Homo sapiens: one gene and its partners. The protein of the gene in region 1 binds, or shares a complex with, the protein of each later gene. Each region holds a gene or a part of one and is shown in the gene's direction. Other genes may lie near its edges. The genes, in order: YKT6, RABGGTB and PTAR1.

Region 1 (8,075 bases):
AAACAAAAGGAGACTCAGGGAGGTAATGGTTTGCTCACTTTTGTGATTTTGTGATGTGTCAGTGCTGGGACTGAATCCAAGTTGGGTGACAGCTGGGGCGATGCAGCAGAAGGCAGGTCTTGCTTTTTGGTAACACAGTGAGCTTGGGAAGTCTGCAACCACATGACTATGAATGAGGCTTCCTGGAACAGTAGAGGCTGAGTGAGGCCAGAGAGGAGCAGGAAGAGTTGCCAGGAGTGGGCTGCATGACAGTTTGTTAAGCATTTCACTGTTGACATCTGAACCCCAACTCTGTCCCTTACCAACCATCTCCTTAAATTGAATCTCAGTCTCTATGTCTGTAGGGTGGCAATAATATTTTCCCCTGTTTTTGTGAGGATTAAATGATGTGGCACATGGAAAGTACTTGGCATAAGGTAAACTTTGGGACAGCCACTATAATGTGTCAAGTGGATACACTGAAATTTATTCCATCCAAGCGCTGTCTTCCTGATCTTTTTGCACAACTTTCAGTGGAAGGAAGAGGGGCTCCAGAGACTTTCCTCAGAAATGGCTCTCACCTGCCTCCTATAGGGAAATGGTGTCAGTGCAAGCAGTTGAGCCTGGACTGATAGCACCCAGCAACCCAGCTTGTCAGACTACTGTGTCCATATCTGTGGGTGGCTGAGCCTAGCCACGGCCAATGGCTGTTCCTAATGTTTACTACCAAAACAGGGGAAATGTGGAAAAGCCCTTTCCACCCTCTGTACTTGGAAACACCCAGGGAAGAGGGTTGGTGACAGAGGTACTGAGTGAGTGGGCAGGTGGTGGGAACTTCCTTTCACCACAGATTATTTAAAGCAATGTTTCTCAGCTGGGCGCAGTGGCTTAAGCTTGTAATCCCAGCAATTTGGGAGGTCGAGGTGGGTGGATCACATGAGGCCAGGAGTTTCAGACCAGCCTGGCCAACATGGTGAAATCCCATCTCTATTAAAAATACAAAAATTAGCCGCGTGTATGGATGCATTCCTGTAATCCCAGCTACTCGGGAGGCTGAGGCATGAGAATCGCTTGAACCTGGGAGGCAGAGGTTGCAGTGAGTGGGATCACACCATTGCACTTCTGCCTGGGCAACAGAGTAAGACCCTGTCACAAAGCAAAACAAACAAACAAACATATATATCTGCAAAGCAATGTTTCTCAAAACTACTGCTCCCAAAGGACATTTTGACGTTTTTGATTGTGCAGTGGGGAGGGGGTGGGTTGGTACTGACATTTCTACAAAGGCCTGAGATGCTGCCTACACAATGTACAGGGCAGTCTCCCAACAAGAAAGAACTATCTAACCCAAAATGTCAATAGTGCCAAGGTTGAGAAACCTTGATTTAGAGTAATGTTTAAAGTGATGCTGTTGTTTTTCCAATATATCATCTCTTTCCCATAATCTCAGATACGGCTGCTTCTAGCATCACAACTTTGTGACCTTACTGACAACTTCCAAAGACCAAGTTTCTTTCAGTTGTATGTGTCTTGCAAGTTCCTTTCTGATTACATGTGAAACTGTGCCCGACAGGGTTAAAGAAACTGGTAACTAACAGAAATCTTGAGCTTGTCTTGCAGGGCAGCCGATAAGGAAACAGTTTGCTATAATCCCCTCTGCTTATACAACTTGCTGGAACAGGTTGGAACCAATATGGCTGACTGGAGCCTGTGCAAAATAGACTTACTAGCCCGAGGAGCGGCCCTTTGATGTCACAGCCCAAATTCCCACAGCTTGTTTTATACCACCTCCTGAATCTGCATGTGACCCTTGAAGCAGCATGAAGAAGCAACAGCTCATGACCAAGAGATTTTCTAAACACTTCTTCGTTTCAGCCAATCACCGTCCAGCCCGAAACTCCACTTCCAAAATCTCTCCCTTAAATCTACTGCTGCGAAGCAAGTATTGGGAGACAGATTTGAGCCCGTCTTCTGTCCCCTTGCAAGGCTGCTTGGCAATACATCTTTCTTGCTACAAAAATCCAATGCTTGGGTGTTTGGTTTTATGTTGTGCGCAGGCAAATGCAGCCGGTTTAGTTTGGTAACACGTGATGTCACTTAATACACAAGAAACGGGCAAGATATGGCATCCTCAGGGAGCTGTGCCTCACTCATTCCTATCCATAGACTTGCCTTCTTTCAACAACGCAAGCAAAAAGAAGGGTTCATTTGGGTTGGTTCCAAGTCTTTGCTATTGTGAACAGTGCCACAATAAACATACGTGTGCATGTGTCCTTATAGCAGCATGATTTATAATCCTTTGGGTATATACCTAGTAATGGGATGGCTGGGTCAAATGGTATTTCCAGTTCTAGATCCCTGAGGAATCGCCACACTGACTTCCACAATGGTTGAACTAGTTTACAGTCCCACGAACAGTGTAAAAGTGTTCCTATTTCTCCACATCCTCTCCAGCACCTGTTGTTTCCTGACTTTTTAATGATCACCATTCTAACTGGTGTGAGATGGTATCTCATTGTGGTTTTGATTTGCATTTCTCTGATGGCCAGTGATGATGAGCATTTTTTCATGTGTTTTTTGGCTACATAAATGTCTTCTTTTGAGAAGTGTCTGTTCATATCCTTCGCCCATTTGTTGATGGGGTTGTTTGTTTTTTTCTTGTAAATTTGTTTGAGTTCATTGTAGATTCTGGATATTAGCCCTTTGTCAGATGAGTAGGTTGCAAAAATTTTCTCCCATTCTGTAGGTTGCCTGTTCACTCTGATGGTAGTTTCTTTTGCTGTGCAGAAGCTCTTTAGTTTAATTAGATCCCATTTGTCAATTTTGGCTTTTGTTGCCATTGCTTTTGGTGTTTTAGACATGAAGTCCTTGCCCATGCCTATGTCCTGAATGGTATTGCCTAGGTTTTCTTCTAGGGTTTTTATGGTTTTAGGTCTAACATGTAAGTCTTTAATCCATCTTGAATTAATTTTTGTATAAGGTGTAAGGAAGGGATCCAGTTTCAGCTTTCTACATATGGCTAGCCAGTTTTCCCAGCACCATTTATTAAATAGGGAATCCTTTCCCCATTGCTTGTTTTTGTCAGGTTTGTCAAAGATCAGATGCTTGTAGATATGCGGCATTATTTCTGAGGGCTCTGTTCTGTTCCATTGCTCTATATCTCTGTTTTGGTACCAGTAGCATGCTGTTTTGGTTACTGTAGCCTTGTAGTATAGTTAGAAGTCAGGTAGTGTGATGCCTCCAGCTTTGTTCTTTTGGCTTAGGATTGACTTGGCAATGCGGGCTCTTTTTTGGTTCCATATGAACTTTAGTTTTTTCCAATTCTGTGAAGAAAGTCATTGGTAGCTTGATAGGGATGGCATTGAATCTATAAATTACCTTGGGCAGTATGGCCATTTTCACGATACTGATTCTTCCTACCCATGAGCATGGAATGTTCTTCCATTTGTTTGTATCCTCTTTTATTTCATTGAGCAGTCGTTTGTAGTTCTCCTTGAAGAGGTCCTTCACATCCCTTGTAAGTTGGATTCCTAGGTATTTTATTCTCTTTGAAGCAATTGTGAATGGGAGTTCACTCATGATTTGGCTCTCTGTCTGTTATTGGTGTATAAGACTGCTTGTGATTTTTGCACATTGATTTTGTATCCTGAGACTTTGCTGAAGTTGCTTATCAGCTTAAGGAGATTTTGGGCTGAGACGATGGGGTTTTCTAGATATACAATCATGTCATCTGCAAACAGGGACAATTTGACTTCCTCTTTTCTTAATTGAATACCCTTTATTTCCTTCTCCTACCTGATTGCCCTGGCCAGAACTTCCAACACTATGTTGAAAAGGAGTGGTGAGAGAGGGCATCCCAGTCTTGTGCCAGTTTTCAAAGGGAATGCTTCCAGTTTTTGTCCATTCAGTATGATATTGGCTGTGGGTTTGTCATAGATAGCTCTTATTATTTTGAGATACGTCCCATCAATACCTAATTTATTGAGAGTTTTTAGCATGAGGGTTGTTGAATTTTGTCAAAGGCCTTTTCTGCATCTATTGAGATAATCATGTGGTTTTTGTCTTTGGTTCTGTTTATATGCTGGATTACGTTTACTGATTTTCGTATGTTGAACCAGCCTTGCATCCCAGGGATGAAGCCCACTTGATCATGGTGGATAAGCTTTTTGATGTGTTGCTGGATTCGGTTTGCCAGTATTTTACTGAGGATTTTTGCTTCAATGTTCATCAAGGATATTGGTCTAAAATTCTTTTTTTGTTGTGTCTCTCTCTGCCACCCTTTGGTATCAGGATGATGCTGGCCTCATAAAATGAGTTAGGGAGGATTCTCTCTTTTTCTTTTGATTGGAATAGTTTCAGAAGGAATGGTACAAGCTCCTCCTAAAATGTGGCACATATACACCATGGAATACTATGCAGCCATAAAAAATGATGAGTTCATGTCCTTTGTAGGGACATGGATGAAGCTGGAAACCATCATTCTCAGCAAACTATTGCAAGGACAAAAAACCAAACACCGCATGTTCTCACTCATAGGTGGGAATTGAACAATAAGAACACATGGACACAGGAAGGCGAACATCACACACCGGGGACTGTTGTGGGGTGGGGGGAGGGGGGAGGGATAGCATTAGGAGATATACTTAATGCTAAATGACGAGTTAATGGGTGCAGCACACCAACATGGCACATGTATACATATGTAACAAACCTGCACGTTGTGCACATGTACCCTAAAACTTAAAGTATAATAATAAAAAAAATGCTTACTTTAAAAAAAGAAAGAAAAGAAAAAAAAAAAAAAGAAGGGTTCAGGCCGCTGTGGGAGGCCCAGCACCACCCAGCACAAGACAGTACGGTATCCCGCCGCGCGCCCGACTCCACCTGGCGAGCAGGGAGGGGCCAAGCTTACGCGAGGCGTGGCATCCCGCCCCTCGCTGCATTGTACTTCCGGGCTCACATTTCTGCATCCGGAGTATGAGAACCCTCAACCAGGCTGACCGGATCCGGAAGTGGATTGCGAGCCAGGAGGAGGAAGCCGGCGGTGGCCCCGTCAGCAGCCGGCTGCTGAGAGGCCGGTAGGCGGCGGCGGTCCCGAGGGGCGGCGGCCGCGCTGCTCCCTGAGAACGGGTCCCGCAGCTGGGCAGGCGGGCGGCCTGAGGGCGCGGAGCCATGAAGCTGTACAGCCTCAGCGTCCTCTACAAAGGCGAGGCCAAGGTGGTGCTGCTCAAAGCCGCATACGATGTGTCTTCCTTCAGCTTTTTCCAGAGATCCAGGTGAGCGGCACAGGCTGGTGGGCCGTGGCGGTCGGGCGGAGAGGACTGGGGTGGGGGTCCGAGTCGGAGTGGGCCTGGGGTCGGCGGAGGGATGAGGGGAGGGTGGAGGAGGCCAAGGGTAGGGGCAGGGCGGGGTGGCCGAGTGCCCGGGGTCTGAGAAGGCTGGTGTCCGAGTCAGAGGCGGGGCGGGGTGGGGAGGGCCCGGGGTCTGCTGTCCGGGCTTGGTCTCCTATAATGGAATCTGGCCGTGGACTCTACCTTTGAGGAACCAACATTAGCTCTTTAAGAGCTTATACCATTCTAGAATATAGTTCTCTACTCAGTGTTTTTCAAATTTCTGTCGTGTAAAAATTTTAAGGAGACTGTGAAGTAGTGCAGATTTCCAAGCTTCATGCCAAGATGTTCTGAATTAGTAGATTGAGGCCTCGGTATTTATATTTTAGACCAACACTTCCCACCCAGTGATTCTGACTCTGGGAGCTTGGGTGCCGCATCTTGAGAGCCATATTTTGATTTTCTTGCGGGGCTTCCCAACAATTCTGTATGAGAGATAGTGATATACTTTTTTTTGTTTGTTTTTAATGGGTGAAGTCACTGAGGTACCAAGAGGTTATATCACAACCAGCTAGAACTGAAAGCCAGGTTTAACGCTTTTTAGTTGGACACTAGTGGTACAAAAGGATTCCACACGGAAGATGCAAATGAAGCATGGGATCTGTAGGGCTTACAGGCTTTTACTTGTTTCTGGGGCGCTTTAATTGCTGGAACGTGTTAGAAGTAACACAGACACTTCCAGACCATTCGTGGGAGGGATTGGGGTGACTCAGGCACGAAAGAAGGAGGACCCTACATGGTCGGTATCTATGGTCATCTTGTCTCAAAATCTGATGGAATCTGCCGTTTGGATTCTGTTTTCCCTGCTTCAGTGCAGCTGGTTCTTGATGAGAGTTCTTTGCCAAGGACTTGCTGGATGTAAAAAAAAAAAAATGTTATTTTGTTGAAACTTTCTGCTTCTTTGAGTTCTTTTAAAAAAATATTTTTAATTGTGGTAAAATGGTACACAAAATTTATCTTCACTATCTTTAAGCGTGTAGTGAGTGCATTGATATGAAATAGATTGATAGTGTTGTGCAGCCATCACTGTCAATCGTCTCCAGAACTCCTTTTTATCAAATTCGTGTCTATTAAACACATTCCCTTCTCCCCCAGCCCATGGCAACTGCCATTCTAATTTGTCTCTGTGATTTTGACTTTTCTGGCGACCTTAGATAAATGGAATCATATAGTTTTTGTGTGTCTGGCTTATTTCATGTAGCATAATGTCCTCAAGGCTCATGCATCTTGTTGCATATATCAGAATTTCTTTCCTTTTTAAGGCTGAATAATCCATTGTATTATTCACCACATTTTGCTTATCTGTTCATCTGTCAGTGGACACCTGGGTTGCTTCCACATTTCAGCCATTGTGAATGATACTGCTATGAACATGGATGTACAAATATCTCTTCAAGACCCTGCTCGCATTTTTTTGGTATTTACCCAGAAGCGGAATTGCTGCATTATCTTTTAGCTCCTTCTTGGGGTTCTTGGTCTTTGCAGTCTTTACCATGGCCTACATTCACTGCTCTGTGTTGTTGCTTTTCTCAGATGGAACTTTTGGTGCCAACTTGGCTCTGATTCTTTTTCCTTTTTCCTTCCCATTAGTACTTAAGATTCTCAGAGATTTCACTTGTAGGACTTATACCTCACCTGCTTGGGATGCCCACACTAGTTTCCAATGACTAACAGCTGCAACACTAAAGGGACATCTCTACTAATATGTCTTAAAACAACACATGTCCCAGCTGATTTATTTATTTATTTATTTTATTTTAGATGGAGTCTTGCTCTGTCACCCAGGCTGGAGTGCAGTGGCACAGTGTCAGCTCACTGCAACCTCCGCCTCCTGGGTTCAAGTGATTCTCCTGCCTCAGCCTCCCAAGTAGCTGGGATTACAGGCGCGCACCACCACACCCGGCTAATTTTTGTATTTTTAGTAGAGATGGGGTTTTACCATGTTAGCCAGGCTGGTCTCGAACTCCTGAGCTCAAGTGATCCGCCTGCCTTGGCCTCCCAAAGTGCTAGGATTACAGGCTTGAGCCACCACGTCCGGCCTGAGCTTGTTTTCTTATAAGACCGCTTTACTTACGTCCTTTGTGCCCTATAATTACCCGATTCCAAAGTTGAAAAAGTAGTTTCCCAGCTTTTTTGGTCTTTGTATACATGCTGTCACAATGCAGTTCTTCCTTTGTCTCTTTATAGCCGTGTCTCAAATGCTGTCTCTAGGTTTACTGCAAAGCCTTCCTTGTTTGAGGTCTTCTTTTCTGAGGGGTTATTTTGATCACTTCAGTCCCTCAAGATATTAACAAGTAATACTGTGTGTGCAGGCATTGTTCCAAGTGCTTTACACGTATTACCTCGTTTAACTGTTGCACAAATCTTGATTTTTTTAATGTGGAGGCACAGCACACAGGCCCAGAGTCAGGCCTTCAGTTACCTATATGGCTCTGCTGGAGCCTGCTGCAGACTCCCATTTGAGCACCCTGCTTTGATGGCCCTGGTTGCCCTTTATATCACATCCTCAGTTGGAGGCTCCTTGTCAGCACCTCTTCCTCTGGCTGTACCATCTCCTGTGACTGTTCTGTTCTGGATAGATCTCTCTGTTGAGCCCATGATGGACCTTCTCCCTTTCACCCTTTGTATGAGCCATTTCCCACTTCTTTGTCTTGGATGAGCAGTTTTCCTTTTGTTCCATCCAGAGTGTCTTGCGCTCGTTCTGTG
Region 2 (6,435 bases), on another chromosome or scaffold:
ATGGATCTCATGGGACAACTTCATCGCATGAATAGAGAAGAGATTCTGGCATTTATTAAGTCTTGCCAACATGAATGTGGTGGAATAAGTGCTAGTATCGGACATGATCCTCATCTTTTATACACTCTTAGTGCTGTCCAGGTAAATACTAATCAAAATTGCAACGATCTTGATAGTATGTTCTCTTACTTCAGAGTTGGAAATTGAAACTGTATCAGGATTTGGTCAAAAAGTTTTGTTACAAGTGAAGCTGTCCTACAAGGTCAATGATGTAATGGCATGTATTAGCTGAATCTAAAGTTGATGTGAGTTCTAAAATTACACTGAGACCTTGGAGGGTAAAATTTTTATCTTCAGTATGTGTAAATACTGTAAAATAGCTAAATGGAGCTATTTGATTTTGATATTAGTGAACATCTACCTGGTGGTTTAAAGTCTTTCTGGTACTACTGGGTGCTGAGATGGGAAGATCAGGACTTTGTGTGGATGTGAGTTAGTATACTTGAGTATCTTGGAATGCCAAGTTAAAATTTATATGTAGAAAATTATACTTTAAAGATTTGAGTTTTCTTGATACTATCTAATTTTATTCAATAACAGGAGAGTCTGCATATTTGAGAAAAGGTTATATACACAGAGACAAAAGGATGTGCTTGACAACTTAAAAAGAGTTGAGCATAAGATCATTAGAATAAACCTGAAAGGGACATTTACCTAATACTTGTCTTTATTGCAGATTCTTACGCTGTATGACAGTATTAATGTTATTGACGTAAATAAAGTTGTGGAATATGTTAAAGGTCTACAGAAAGAAGATGGTTCTTTTGCTGGAGATATTTGGGGTAATGTCAGATTTAGTCCATTCTACCCAAAATACCAATATTAAAATGTACTGGTTTTGCTAGTAACCAGTTTATAAGTTTTTCATCTTTTCAGGTCCCACTAAGCAGCTGGTCTAACTGGAGTTAATGGTCTGCTGGAACTTCCAGCATGCACTGTGGTAGTTATATCAGCATATACAGGAGCACTGGAACAGAGGGGGCCAGTCTAAAAGATAAGGTAGGTGGAATTTTTTTCCCCAATATTTGGTGGCTTTGTAAAGTTTTTTAAAAACTACTTGCTGGAAAGGGAAAAATATTTAAAAAAAAAAACTTTACAAACTTGCTGAATATTTGAGTGGAGGGAGGGAATAGAATTTTATTTGATAAACGTAGATAATCTCTGCTTTAGGGATGAACACAGTGCAGGCCAGAGAGACCAGCTGCTTCATGGGATGTGAAAAATCTACTTTTATAAAGTAGGGTAAGTTTATTTCATTATTAGAAATGGACTAATACTTTGGGTTCTATTAGTTTTCTTCTCTTTGGTTTTCTTCTCTTTCTGGGCTTTCTTTAAGCAGCTTAAGATAATTTGCTGTTACTTTTTTGTGGCAGGGTCTTGGCTCTGTCCAGGTTGGAGTGCAGTATTTTGGGAGACAGTTGCTGGGGCTGGAGAGCTCTGTTGCCCAGGCTGGAGTGCAGTGGTGCAATCTTGGCTCACTGCAACCTCCACCTCCCAAGCTCAAGCAATTCTCCTGCCTCAGCTTACAGAGTAGCTGAGATGTGCACCACAACACCTGGCTGGTTTTTGTGTTTTTAGTAGAGATGGGGTCCCCTGGCCTCATGTGATCCTCCTGCCTCGGCCACCAAAAGTGCTGGGATTTCAGGCCTGAGCCACAATGCCCAGCCCCACCTAATTTTTTTTAAAAAGTTTTTTGTAGAGATGGGGTCCCATTATGTTGCCTCGGCTAGTCTCAAACTCCTAGGCTCAAGTGATTCTCCCACCTCAGCCTCCCAAAATGTTGGAATTATAGGCAAGAGCTACTGTGCCTGGTCAATTTGCTGTTATTTTTGACAAAGGAATTTTCTTGGGAAGTAAAGGCACTTCAGATTTAGCTTTCCTCCTGACTACCCTAAAGTGAAAGTTAAGCTTGAACTCAATTTAAAGTGGTAGTTGTGCAGTGTTTGTTTTTAGATGACTCATGTATGATTTGGTAACACCTGCCTTGATTTGATCTATTTTTATTGTAGGAGAAATTGACACAAGATTCTCTTTTTGTGCGGTGGCAACTTTGGCTTTGTTGGTAAGCTTTGAATATTTGATTGAAATGATTAAAGTTCATGAATACTCTGGAATTTTTTTTTTTTTTGAGTCTGATCTGCTGAATACTCTGGAATTTAACAGGCATCTTTTTTTTTGTTTGTAGGGGAAGCTTGATGCTATTAATGTGGAAAAGGCAATCGAATTTGTTTTATCCTGTATGAACTTTGACGGTGGATTTGGTTGCAGACCAGGTTCTGAATCCCATGCTGGGCAGGTAATTTATGAATACAGATGAAAATGTATTGTCATTTTGGAAGCCAGTGTAGTAAAATAAGAAAATTGGTTATTTCAGTGTTTGTCAAATACACATAAAGTTAATTCGACTGTAATAGGGCATCTTACATAAGAATTGCTTAATTGCTATCATTACTTTGCTTTATATACTATATACCTTTCTCTGTCGGTGGATTCGTCTGACCTAAGCAAACATAAGTGGGTTTATAAGCACCAAAACACTTTTGTTTTCCATTAATTTTTCACTAACCATACAGATAAAAAAAAAAACAACACATTTTTCTTTCTTTCCTAAGATAAATTATGAACCTCTTTTCTTGTGCCAGAGAACACTGAATATGTGAATGGATGGCTGTGAAATACTAGCCATGAAGAAATTTTGACAATAATATTTCAGTGCAGAATTGCATACTAGTAATAGTATGCTTGGATTTTTTCAGATATGTGGTATTAATACATGTTTGGAATTTTAAGTGTCAGATCAAGAAGAAAAACTTAAGATATAAAGTGGTGTTTTAATAATTTGAGTTTTATCACTTTTAATGTCAAGAAATTATTATACACATAAACTTTATGTCTGTAATTTTAGATCTATTGTTGCACAGGATTTCTGGCAATTACAAGTCAGTTGCATCAAGTAAATTCTGATTTACTTGGCTGGTGGCTTTGTGAACGACAATTACCCTCAGGCGGGCTCAATGGAAGGCCGGAGAAGGTATTGTTTGATAAGCCATATTCTGCTAGCTTTAGAACCTTGAGTGAATGCTGCTGCTTTGTCTTGCCTGTTTCTATATTGTAAATTGGCCATGAGCTTATTTATTACCTTTCCCTGTTGTGAATTTTCAGTAATATATCCTACTAAAAGACTCCCCTTGACAAAGTAGACCCCCATGAGTTGAAATACTCATTGATCCTAATGTCCATTTCCAGACAGTCTTGTACAGGAATCTCCATGTTTAAGGACAGTTGATTTTGGCAAATTGGATTTTTTAAAAATTAGACTACAGAATTTTTGTTTGCAATCTTCTTATTTAAGGAATACCCAGATAATTTGGTTTGGAGAGAAGATTATTAAATTTTCCTCCACATAATAGGTCTCTCTTATCAGGTCTGTAAGGGACAAATAGTGAATACTCATTTGCAACTATGTAATTGTCCTGTAGAGCAAGTGCAGCCATAAGTGGTAAGAAATGAATGAGTATGGCTGTGTTCCAATTACAATTATTATGGATGGATATACTTGTATTTCCTATGTCAGATGGAATCTTGCTCTGTTGCCCAGGCTGGAGTGCAGTGACGCCATCTTGATTCACTGCAACCTCCGCCTCCCAGGTTCAAGCAGTTCTGCCTCAGCCTCCCAAGTAGCTGGGACTACAGGCGCACGGCTAATTTTTGTATTTTTATTAGAGACGGGGTTTCACCATATTGGCCAGGCTGGTCTCAAACTCCTGACCTCGTGATCTGCCTGCATCAACCTCCCAAAGTGCTGGGATTGTAGGCGTGAGCCACCGTGCCTGACCCAGGACTATATTTAAATGATTTATAAATGTAAAAACTATTCCTACACTATAGATTTGACTCAAGGATTGTAGCTTGCTGTGCCCCTGCCCTCTGAATGGGACGTGGTGGTACAGTAGCTGGGATTACAGTCATACACCACCACGCCCATCCAATTTTGTATTTTTAGTAGAGATGGGGTATCACCATGTTCATCAGGCTGATCTTGAACTCCTGACCTCAGGTGATCTACCCGCCTCAACCTCCCAAAGTGCTGGGATTACAGGCGTGAGCCACTGTGCTCGGCCTGTATTTTTATTTTTAAACCTTAGTATTTCTGAATAACAACGGGTAGAGAAACACCCGCAGTAGCTGTCTACAATAGAGTGAAATAAAAAGCCTGAGGAACTGTCAACAGAAAAATGGGTGGCCGTGGGGAGCACCGGGACCTGCACTTGCACACAATCTAGGGCAGCTTCTAATGAGTCTATGAGTTACTCAGGGATCTCATTAAAATGAGATCAGCCTTGAGTGGGGTTTTCTTTATAGACTTCTGTCACCATATTTTGAAGAGCAAGGGTTTAGTTGATTTTAAGCAGGTGTGTACCCCCCTGGACAGTGCTTGTAGAAAAACAGAACTATACCCATGGATTTCATGATTATACTGCTAGCTTCTTGGTTAAGGGGCTGAGTTAGGCATTCATTGCAGATAGAAACAAAGCAGATGCATGCTTATCAGTGAGTACTGAGATATTTAGCATGGTTACCTATGAATTGAAGTTTGGTCTCTTCTTACCCATTAATTGATTATCTTTCATTCTAAGCAAGTATTTCATACCCTGCATATCAGTATATCCCTGGATTTCGTCCTTCCACATGGTTTGACACTTTGAACATCAGATTACCTAAGAGTGAGACTTAACCCACTTTTAAATTGTTCTCAAAATTAGGGAAATAAAAGAGAATGAAATTGTGGCAACTTTTTTCCCTCCTAGTTACCAGATGTATGCTACTCATGGTGGGTCCTGGCTTCCCTAAAGATAATTGGAAGACTTCATTGGATTGATAGAGAGAAACTGCGTAATTTCATTTTAGCATGTCAAGATGAAGAAACGGGGGGATTTGCAGACAGGCCAGGAGATATGGCAAGTAATATTTCTGACATATTTCTATAAATTATTTCAGCGTTTGCATTACTTCATGGTTCCATGGATTTCCAGGGTGGCATTCCGAGTGTTGCTTTGAAAGCAGTTTTTTTTTCTATTTATTGTAGAGTGTATGAAGGATATAGAACAATCTTACAGAAATTTCTTGTCGCTTGTTGCTAACAAAATTAGTATATGGTAAAGGTCAGGTATTCATAATTTGAAGTTAAAGAAGTTTTCATTTTGTGATCTGTATATAAATTCTTTTTTAAATAGGTGGATCCTTTTCATACCTTATTTGGAATTGCTGGATTGTCACTTTTGGGAGAAGAACAGATTAAACCTGTTAATCCTGTCTTTTGCATGCCTGAAGAAGTGCTTCAGAGAGTGAATGTTCAGCCTGAGCTAGTGAGCTAGATTCATTGAATTGAAAGTTGCATAGTATAGTTTTGCCATTTTAACATTTCTGTATTTGAAGTGCTTATCGAATCTAAAAGTGACTACTGTTAATATTTTGTATATTGTGTTAAATTAATTTTAATAAATTATATAATTATACATATTGTAAAATAAAGACCGGTATTTTATTTTCTGCTTTTTATTCTGAAGTCCTGTTATTCTGACTACAGTTCTTTGTGTATACTTCTGTGTCTGTTATGTTCAATAACTGAGCTAACATAAAATAACTCTAGGTTTCTACTTGATTTTTCCCCCATGTATACCTTTCATCTGTTCTATAGCAAGTTGATGTAAATTGGTTTGTCAACAAGAATGTTAACTGATGAAAGTGGATAGAACCCATACATGAATTAAATGATGCACAAAATAAATGGCTGTTGAAATTTGGAAATGATTGATAGGTTTGAATATGGTTATTCTGAATTGGTCACAGACTTAGGTTAAATGGCAATCTACCATCTTAAAATGGGGTTGTGATTCGGACTGTCCTTTTTTTTTTTTTTTTTTTTTTTTTTTTTAGCATTTTATATATCAGAATTACCCAAAGAAGGAGTTGTCTTCAAATAAGGAAACACTAACGGGTAAGTTGATGGTCACCACAGTATTTTTTTGCACCTGTCTTTTTCTTAAAAAGCTAAAATGGGTACAATCACTCTTTTTTATTTTTTTGTGACAGAATCTCTGTTGCCCAGGCTGGAGCGCAGCAGCACGATCTCAGCTTAACTGCAACCTCCGTCTGCCGGGTTTAAGCAATTCAGCCGCAGCCTCTCGAGTAGCTGGGACTACAGCCGCACACCACCATGCCCGGCTAATTTTTATGTTACTTTAGTACAGACAGGGTTTCACCATGCTGAGGAGCTGGAGACCAGCCTGACCTTGTGATCCACCCACCTCGGCCTCCCAAAGTGCTGGGATTACAGGCGTGAGCCACCACGCCTGGCCTAAAATGAGTACAATC
Region 3 (7,759 bases), on another chromosome or scaffold:
TATTTGTATTTGGTACTTGTTTTGGTCATTACATATCCACATTTTCCTCTATCATCAATTAGTCTTCTAAAATAAGAAACGTGTGGTTTTTGGGAGTGGGTAGGAAGATTGTCAAAATATATTCACAACCATGTAAATGATAATAATAGACATGGTCACTTAAAAAAATCAATATATCTGTAAGAAAATTAGTATGCACATAATATATTTGGCTAATTAACAAACAAATATATCAGCTCCTTATTAATATATAATTTAAAAAACTTTTCTTAGGCCAGGTGCAGTGGCTCAAGCCTGTAATCCCAGCACTTTGGGAGGCCGAGGTGGGTGGTCAGGAGTTGAGGTCAGGAATTCGAGACCAGCCTGGCCAACATGGTGAAACCCAGTCTCTACTAAAAATAGAAAAATTAGCCAGGTGTGGTGGCGTGTGTCTGTAATACCAGCTACTCAGGAGGCTGACACAGGAGAATCGCTTGAACCTGTACCACTGCACTGCAGCCTGCACGACAGAGTGAGAATCCGTCTCAAAAAAAAAAAAATTCTTAAATTACAAATGTTACTTTGCTCTTTACATTACATAGTCAAATTGTCCTATGAAAATACCTCTAACACTTTGGTATATATTCCTCTAGTTATAATGTGATTTTCATGTGGGGAAAAGCAAGAGAGATCAGATTGTTACTGTGTCTGTGTAGAAAGAAGTAGACATAGGAGACTCCATTTTGTTATGTACTAGGAGAAATTCTTCTGCCTTGAGATCCTGTTAATCTATAACCTTACCCCCAACCCCGTGCTCTCTGAAACATGTGCTGTGTCAACTCAGAGTTGAATGGATTAAGGGCGGTGCAAGATGTGCTTTGTTAAACAGATGCTTGAAGGCAGCATGCTCGTTAAGAGTCATCACCACTCCCTAATCTCAAGTACCCAGGGACACAAAAACTGCGGAAGTCCGCAGGGACCTCTGCCTAGGAAAGCCAGGTATTGTCCAAGGTTTCTCCCCATGTGATAGTCTGAAATATGGCCTCGTGGGAAGGGAAAGACCTGACCGTCCCCCAGCCCGACACCCGTAAAGGGTCTGTGCTGAGGAGGATTAGTAAAAGAGGAAGGAATGCCTCTTGCAGTTGAGACAAGAGGAAGGCATCTGTCTCCTGCCTGTCCCTGGGCAATGGAATGTCTCGGTATAAAACCCGATTGTATGCTGCATCTACTGAGATAGGGAAAAACTGCCTTAGGGCTGGAGGTGGGACCTGCGGGCAGCAATACTGCTTTGTAAAGCATTGAGATGTTTATGTGTATGCATATCTAAAAGCACAGCACTTAATCCTTTACATTGTCTATGATGCAAAGACCTTTGTTCACGTGTTTGTCTGCTGACCCTCTCCCCACAATTGTCTTGTGACCCTGACACATCCCCCTCTTTGAGAAACACCCACAGATGATCAATAAATACTAAGGGAACTCAGAGGCTGGCGGGATCCTCCATATGCTGAACGCTGGTTCCCCGGGTCCCCTTATTTCTTTCTCTATACTTTGTCTCTGTGTCTTTTTCTTTTCCAAATCTCTCGTCCCACCTTACGAGAAACACCCACAAGTGTGTAGGGGCAACCCACCCCTACATTTTCAAATACTAAATAGCATCTTACCATATAAATTTATAATTTAATCAATCCCCTCTCATTGGGCATTTAAGTTATTTACTGTATTTTATTATCAATAAATGAACATAAATCTTGTAGTCCTTCGACAAAATCACGCTGAATTTATTATGCCCTATTCTTGTATACATATATATCATTATTGAGGATTTATGAATTTCAAATCTTAAATCCTTTGGACTTCTGTTTTCTTATCTGTAAAATTAGAGAGTTGGCTCAGAGTTCTAATTATGCTCCAATTCTAAAAAAAAAAACAAGTTCTAAACATAGTAGATTCTTAATAATTGGGGTAAAACAATTTGTGAATTCTTAGAGGAAACAAGATACAATGCATGCCTTTCAAATGACTATAAAGAGGTTGCATGTGGAGAGGGCATACACAGAATCATACAGAGGAATTCTGTTTCTGAAATAGCTGTTTTACATCAAAATTTGGGGACAAAGTTTTCTTTTTTCCCTGTTAAATAAAGCCTTTCGGGGAAAATCATTATTTCTGAGTGTGCTGCTTTGATCTCTGCCTCCAGAAATTGGGATTTATTTCCCACTGCCATTAGGATGCAAGGTCCTGATTAAGAAAACTTACTAAGTTTAAGAATTTTAATTTAAGAACTGGTCTTACATTCTTAATCAGGATATTTAAAGTTGTCTTTTGCCTTGAAATCTAAACACACATTCCACTCTTTTCACTGCTTCACTCCAGAACTTGTTATCGGTTAAATTTTGATTGATTTTACTAACTCTTTTTTTTTCTTTCTTTTTTTTTTTTTTTTTTTTTTGAGATGGCATTTCGCTTTTGTTGCCCAGGCTGGAGTGCAGGGCACAGTCTTGGCTTACTGCAACGTGCGTCTCCCGGGTTCAAGCGATTCTCCTGCCTCAGCCTCCCAAGTAGCTGGAGCTACAGGCATGCACCACGACGCCCAGCTAATTTTGTATTTTAAGTAGAGACGGGGTTTCACCCTGTTGGCCAGGCTGGTCTCAAACTCCTGATCTCAGGTATCCACCCGCCTCGGCCTCCCAAAGTGCTGGGATTACAGGCGTGAGACACCGTGCCCGGCCGACTTTACTAATTCTTAATCCTGTCCCACCTTGCTGGCTACAATTTTGTGAAACTTCTATCTCACTTCTTTTTTTTTTTTTTTAGATGGAGTCTTGCTCTGTCGCCAGGCTGGAGGGCAGTGGCGCGATCTCCACTCACTGCAACCTCCTACTTCCGCGTTCAAGCGCTTCTCCTGCCTCAGCCTCCCAAGTAGCTGGGATTACAAGCACGTGCCACCACGCCCAGCTAATTTTATATTTTTAGTAGAGACGGCGTTTCACTGTCTTGGCCACGATGGTCTCGAACTCCTGACCTCGTGATCCTTCCGCCTCTGCCTCCCAAAGTGCTGGGATTACAGGTGTAAGCCACCGTGCCCGGTCCTATCTCACTTCTTTTACAACCAGAAGGCTAACTCCAGCCTTTATAAACATACCCACAGGAAATACTGGCCACTGAGTATAGTAAATTTATATTTTTCGTTTATATTTCTCATTCACTTTACATGCAATAGATAGCTTTTACTTTTACAATCATAAAAACTACTTCAAACGCTCCGCATATGTTCACATTAAACACACCATGAGTTTATTTTTTTAATAGCTTTTTAAAGATACAGATTTCTTTTTTTTTTTTTTTGAGACAGAGTCTCGCTCTGTCGCCCAGGCCGGACTGCGGACTGCAGTGGCGCAATCTCGGCTCACTGCAAGCTCCGCTTCCCGGGTTCACGCCATTCTCCTGCCTCAGCCTCCCGAGTAGCTGGGACTACAGGCGCCCGCCACCGCGCCCAGCTAATTTTTTGTATTTTTAGTAGAGACGGGGTTTCACCTTGTTAGCCAGGATGGTCTCGATCTCCTGACCTCATGATCCACCCGCCTCGGCCTCCCAAGGTGCTGGGATTACAGGCGTGAGCCACCGCGCCCGGCCTTTTTTTAAAGACGGAGTCTCGCTCTGTCGCCCAGGCTGGAGTGCAGTGGGGAGTAGCTGGGATTACAGGCGCCCGCCACCACGCCCGGCTTTTTTTTTTTTTTTTTTTTTTTTGTATTTTTAGTAGAGACGGGGTTTCACCGTGTTAGCCAGGATGGTCTCGATCTCCTGACCTTGTGATCCGCCCGCCTTGGCCCCCCAAAGTGCTGGGATTACAGGCGTGAGCCACCGCACCTGGCCAGATTTCAAGGGTGGAAGAATAAAACTGAACCAAGGGCAGCCAGATTTTTCTACCAGAGGTGCAAAAGAAAACCTGATACACAAAAATTTTAGTTATGGCATTTCAAAATCCTAAATAAACTAGAAAGCTCGTTTTTCCTACAAAAATTTATTTTTGCTATTATGAACAAACCCTGTCAGAGCCTTGATCCTTTTTTTTAAATTCCAAAATTGACGCAAAGGCTACCAAATGCAGTACAAAATGAAGTCGAAAAATCTAAAAACGATTTCACTTCTACTTCCTACATACAGATGGCAAATAACTTTTCCTTCACTTTCCTTTCTCTTCCTTTAATAAATTTAAGAATTTTAATTAATGTTTTTTAAAAAGGCTGCTTTCAAGTTCAGAGACAAAAATTGGCACAGTTAGAAAGGAGGTCACCAACACGGTCAAATAGGGACTCGCTCCGCCGCAATGCCTCTGGACCTCTTCATCTCTCAGGCTGGGAAAATAAAGCAGACAAGCTCTGAAAAACGCCCGGGACTAACTGTTAAGAGGCCCTGCATCCTCAGTTGAACATTCCTTCAGGAATGCCCGGGGACCTTGCTGGGGGGGTTCAGGAAGGTGTCTGACTCTCTGGGAGTGTGTCTTGAGGTTTCGCCTAAAACTTAAAATAAGAAAATCGGAGGCCTGAGAGAACTTTGCAAACAAATGTCCAGCATCTTCTCTGACGCTTAGAAAGTCCGTTACCCGCGCGGAGGCGAACTTCTCCACTCACTGGAAGGCCACCAACCCTAGCTAACGCCACGCCCAGGCCGCCAACTGGCTGACCCGGAAGTGCTCGGCGGCGGCCGCGGCGGCGGGGACGCGGCCTAGCCGAAGCACCCGCGCGCGCGCGCGCGCGCTCGTTCTCCGCGGAACTCCCGCCGGCGGCCCGGCTCACGCGGAGGCGCGCCCGAACTGTCGCGGCCGCCGCCAACATGGCCGAGACCAGCGAGGAGGTGGCGGTGCTGGTGCAGCGGGTTGTGAAGGACATCACTAACGCCTTCAGGAGGAACCCACACATGTGAGTCGCGCGCCTCCGCCGCCTCCGAGGGTCGTCGGGAGCGGGCGGGGGCGGGGCCAAGCGTCCACCCGACCTCGGGCGGCGGGCGGACAGCGGGTCCTGGCCCACGAGCCCTTCTAGGGAGGAGGCAGAGCCGTGTCGGGCGGGACCGTTGTCGGCCGCCGCTGGCCCGGCTTTCCGCTACCGGGACGCGCTCGCGGTCGAGTCCCTAGAAGTGACCTCAAAAAATCAAAACGGAACTACTTTCTCTGTCCCTCCCCACCTTTTCATAGGAGTTCACGAAACTCCAGAGACGTCCCCCGTAGGTCGACATCCTTCCTGTGTTTAAGGTACTCGGGCGCACACAACGATGTGGGTCCGTGTATGCCTTGTAAACACAACTCTTGAGATTCATCCCGGACGTTGGCAAGAGGGGGTAACCGATCCTCTTACTTTTAATGAGCCTCAAACCCCTCAGTTTACTAACTAAAGGTGGTTTGAGGCTGCTTTTGACTTTAGCCTTACTTGCCACAAAATTGTAAAGTGACTCCGATAATACATTGTGTTTTGAAAGGTGAACAGAACATTCTCAAGAGAAGCTTCTGTGGGCGCAGTGTGGAGTCTGGGATAAAGCAAATGAAACCTTGATACTTTTTAGCATAAGCGGATTCATAGTTACAAGGAGCATGTTAACTCATTTTTATCCCAACACTGCTGCCCTCTTTAACGGGACACTGCAGAACTGACATATGTATCTCTTCCATTTTACTTGAAGTACTGTGGGAAGATACCGCAAGAGTCTACTTTTTGTAACACTTTGCTTTTATGTAACAAGTGAAAAGAAAGCTATTGAGAGAGAGAGAGAGATCTACATTATACAAAGGTGTAGGGAAGAAGCAACAATGTACCTCCTTTCCCATACCTCTTCCTCCTCAAAGAAAAGAAACATGGCATCCAGTTCTGCATTACTTTCATTTTAGCTAGTTGTTTTTGGAGTTTATTTTTTTTTTTTTTAGTTTATTATTTTTTATTATTATTTAATTTATTTTTATTTTATTCTTTAGACTGGAGCTCATGATTTTTTTTTTTAAGTATTCTAACCGGTTCAGCTTTTCTGCCTAAAAAAGTTGCCAAACGTGTATCTTACCAAAGTGTTCTTTTCCTCCAAGGTGATGATTGTAAAACAGTTAAGAAGCCGTTGGATGTTTTGCTCCCTTGTGGCACACAATTGGAGACGTGCAACTGTGCCACATTAAAAACAAAACACTGCTGGCCTCAAAACACACCTGCCACCTCTGACAGCATCCACTTCCCTCCCCCTTATGACTGCTGCCTTTTTCAAAATGAGAGTGTTTGGAATGATTTCCTGGCAGTATCCATAGTGGTTGCTGAGCCTTCTAAAGAATGCTTTGATGCCTTGCTGTATATCAGTCTTTCGATTTCTTTTTGAGAATGGGAGCCTTAGTGCAAGTAAGAGACGACCTCAAAAAAAAAAAAAGTTGGACAAATGAAGAGTGTATTTTCTCATCACTGGTATTTTTCTAGAAGAAATTACAGCAGAGATTAGAAATCTAATACAAAATGTCGTAATCATCTTATGTTCTCTTCTTTGAGGTAGACTAAAAGAGCATCATTATATTTGAAGAAACCAAGATTGAATGTTCATTGGCTTGGCAGTTTTTAACACAGTGCAGTTTGGAACATGTCCCAGTTCTTGTGGATCACATTTATGGAAACTCTTAAAGGACTTTAATGCCCCTCCCTAATCCTTTTTCTACTGTAAAACCTCATTAATATATCCTCAATGTATAATTTATTAGTAATAAGGATTTGGGTCATTCGAGATTTAAAACTTTGAGATAAGTTGGATATTCGGAATAATGTAATGATTTGTAATATAGGTCTTAAACATTTAAATAGCTTAACTCATTGTTTAAGACTAGTCATCAGCTATATTTGAATACATATTCCCCACAGTAAAACTATTTTCAATAATATTACTATGCATCTTTGTAAGTGCCTTATAATTTGGGCTTTTAAAAATTGCCTGCGCTTTCTTCCCTTAATTTAGCCCATTTACTCCCAAAATAAAGAGGCTGTGTTTCTTTTTTTTTTTTTAAGGCATTGTTTATCTGTAACGTTTGTATCTAACTTTACTGTATCTAATTACACTTTCAGTATTATACAAAAATTTTTTTGTTTTTCTTGTCCAAACTTAAGATCGGTTGTAATTTTATTGGCCAACATCTACTTCATTAAATACATTGACTTTGTTTATGTAGAAATATTTAGCCAGAAGGAGTTGAGGATGCAGTGGTGAGATGTGGATTTTGTTACTGTATGATGTGAATAGGTACCTTCTCTCAGCCTCAGTTTCCTCTTGATCTTGTGAGGCTGATGAAAACAGGAAAATCACCTCACACAGTGGTACTTAGTTGCCACTCAATAAATATTAGACCTTCCCTGAATCTCTGTGTTCCTCACCAAAAATATATTGGACAAATGATTGGTGAATATGAAGCACTTTATAAACCTGGATAATACTATATAAATGCTGTTTGTATGGTTGAGTATTAGATAATCATATTGGATTCTCTAAAACTGAAAACTTGACCTAGGGATAGTCTTTAACTTAGTGTATGGACCCTGTGCTAATGTAGAAGACAACAGTTTATAATGTAAACAGTCACGTTAAAATTAATCTTATCCAGCAAGTTATTGTTTTTTCTATTAAATATTGAACTCACTGTTTATGAAGTGTTGTGGGTACCATCTTTACTGTGTGAAATAGAAGTTTAAAATACAGTTCTTGAACCCAAGGCACTAACAGAAATTTCTGTAATGGTGGAAATTTTCTGTGTCTGTGCTGTTCCATATGG

Evidence for each region.
Region 2: the proteins of YKT6 (region 1) and RABGGTB are in contact, whole or in part, in a crystal structure (PDB 6J7F), measured with the Homo sapiens proteins. Residues at the interface, in NP_006546.1 of Homo sapiens: Lys60, Gln62, Asp63, Leu65, Asn83, Glu84, Tyr85, Pro86, Ser87, Leu153, Asn155, Thr156, Glu158, Arg189, Lys190, Cys194, Cys195; in NP_004573.2 of Homo sapiens: Thr3, Pro4, Gln5, Lys6, Asp7, Ile9, Lys11, Tyr37, Leu45, Trp52, Leu236 (codon at 4,869), Asp238 (codon at 4,875), Cys240 (codon at 4,881), Arg281 (codon at 5,004), Gly283 (codon at 5,010), Asp284 (codon at 5,013), Met285 (codon at 5,016), Asp287 (codon at 5,298), Phe289 (codon at 5,304), His290 (codon at 5,307).
Region 3: the proteins of YKT6 (region 1) and PTAR1 are in contact, whole or in part, in a crystal structure (PDB 6J7F), measured with the Homo sapiens proteins. Residues at the interface, in NP_006546.1 of Homo sapiens: Met1 (codon at 5,152), Ser29 (codon at 5,236), Phe30 (codon at 5,239), Phe31 (codon at 5,242), Asn83, Glu84, Pro86, Gln131, Asn132, Pro133, Arg134, Gln180, Phe184, Arg189, Ser193; in NP_001093136.1 of Homo sapiens: Glu31, Gly33, Leu34, Ile35, Pro36, Val48, Val50, Glu51, Lys53, Leu54, Gly55, Ser58, Lys135, Tyr191, His225, Ser228, Met229, His230, Val231, Ser232, Asp233, Phe298, Asp301, Leu302, Ser305, Tyr306, His309.

What each region holds. Positions count from the first base shown.
Region 1 is NC_000007.14:44,195,985-44,204,059, forward strand, and holds the start of YKT6 (synaptobrevin homolog YKT6), read left to right. Parts: upstream 1-4,993; 5' UTR 4,994-5,151; coding exon 5,152-5,255; intron 5,256-8,075. UniProt on the Homo sapiens protein: Vesicular soluble NSF attachment protein receptor (v-SNARE) mediating vesicle docking and fusion to a specific acceptor cellular compartment. Functions in endoplasmic reticulum to Golgi transport; as part of a SNARE complex composed of GOSR1, GOSR2 and STX5.
Region 2 is NC_000001.11:75,789,216-75,795,650, forward strand, and holds the end of RABGGTB (geranylgeranyl transferase type-2 subunit beta), read left to right. Parts: coding exon 1-141; intron 142-261; exon of another isoform or gene 262-332; intron 333-736; coding exon 737-842; intron 843-936; exon of another isoform or gene 937-1,059; intron 1,060-1,230; exon of another isoform or gene 1,231-1,302; intron 1,303-2,069; coding exon 2,070-2,122; intron 2,123-2,245; coding exon 2,246-2,356; intron 2,357-2,965; coding exon 2,966-3,091; intron 3,092-4,868; coding exon 4,869-5,018; intron 5,019-5,294; coding exon 5,295-5,435; 3' UTR 5,436-5,871; downstream 5,872-6,435. UniProt on the Homo sapiens protein: Catalyzes the transfer of a geranylgeranyl moiety from geranylgeranyl diphosphate to both cysteines of Rab proteins with the C-terminal sequence -XXCC, -XCXC and -CCXX, such as RAB1A, RAB3A, RAB5A and RAB7A.
Region 3 is NC_000009.12:69,756,995-69,764,753, reverse strand, and holds the start of PTAR1 (protein prenyltransferase alpha subunit repeat-containing protein 1), read left to right. Parts: upstream 1-4,742; 5' UTR 4,743-4,815; coding exon 4,816-4,901; intron 4,902-7,759.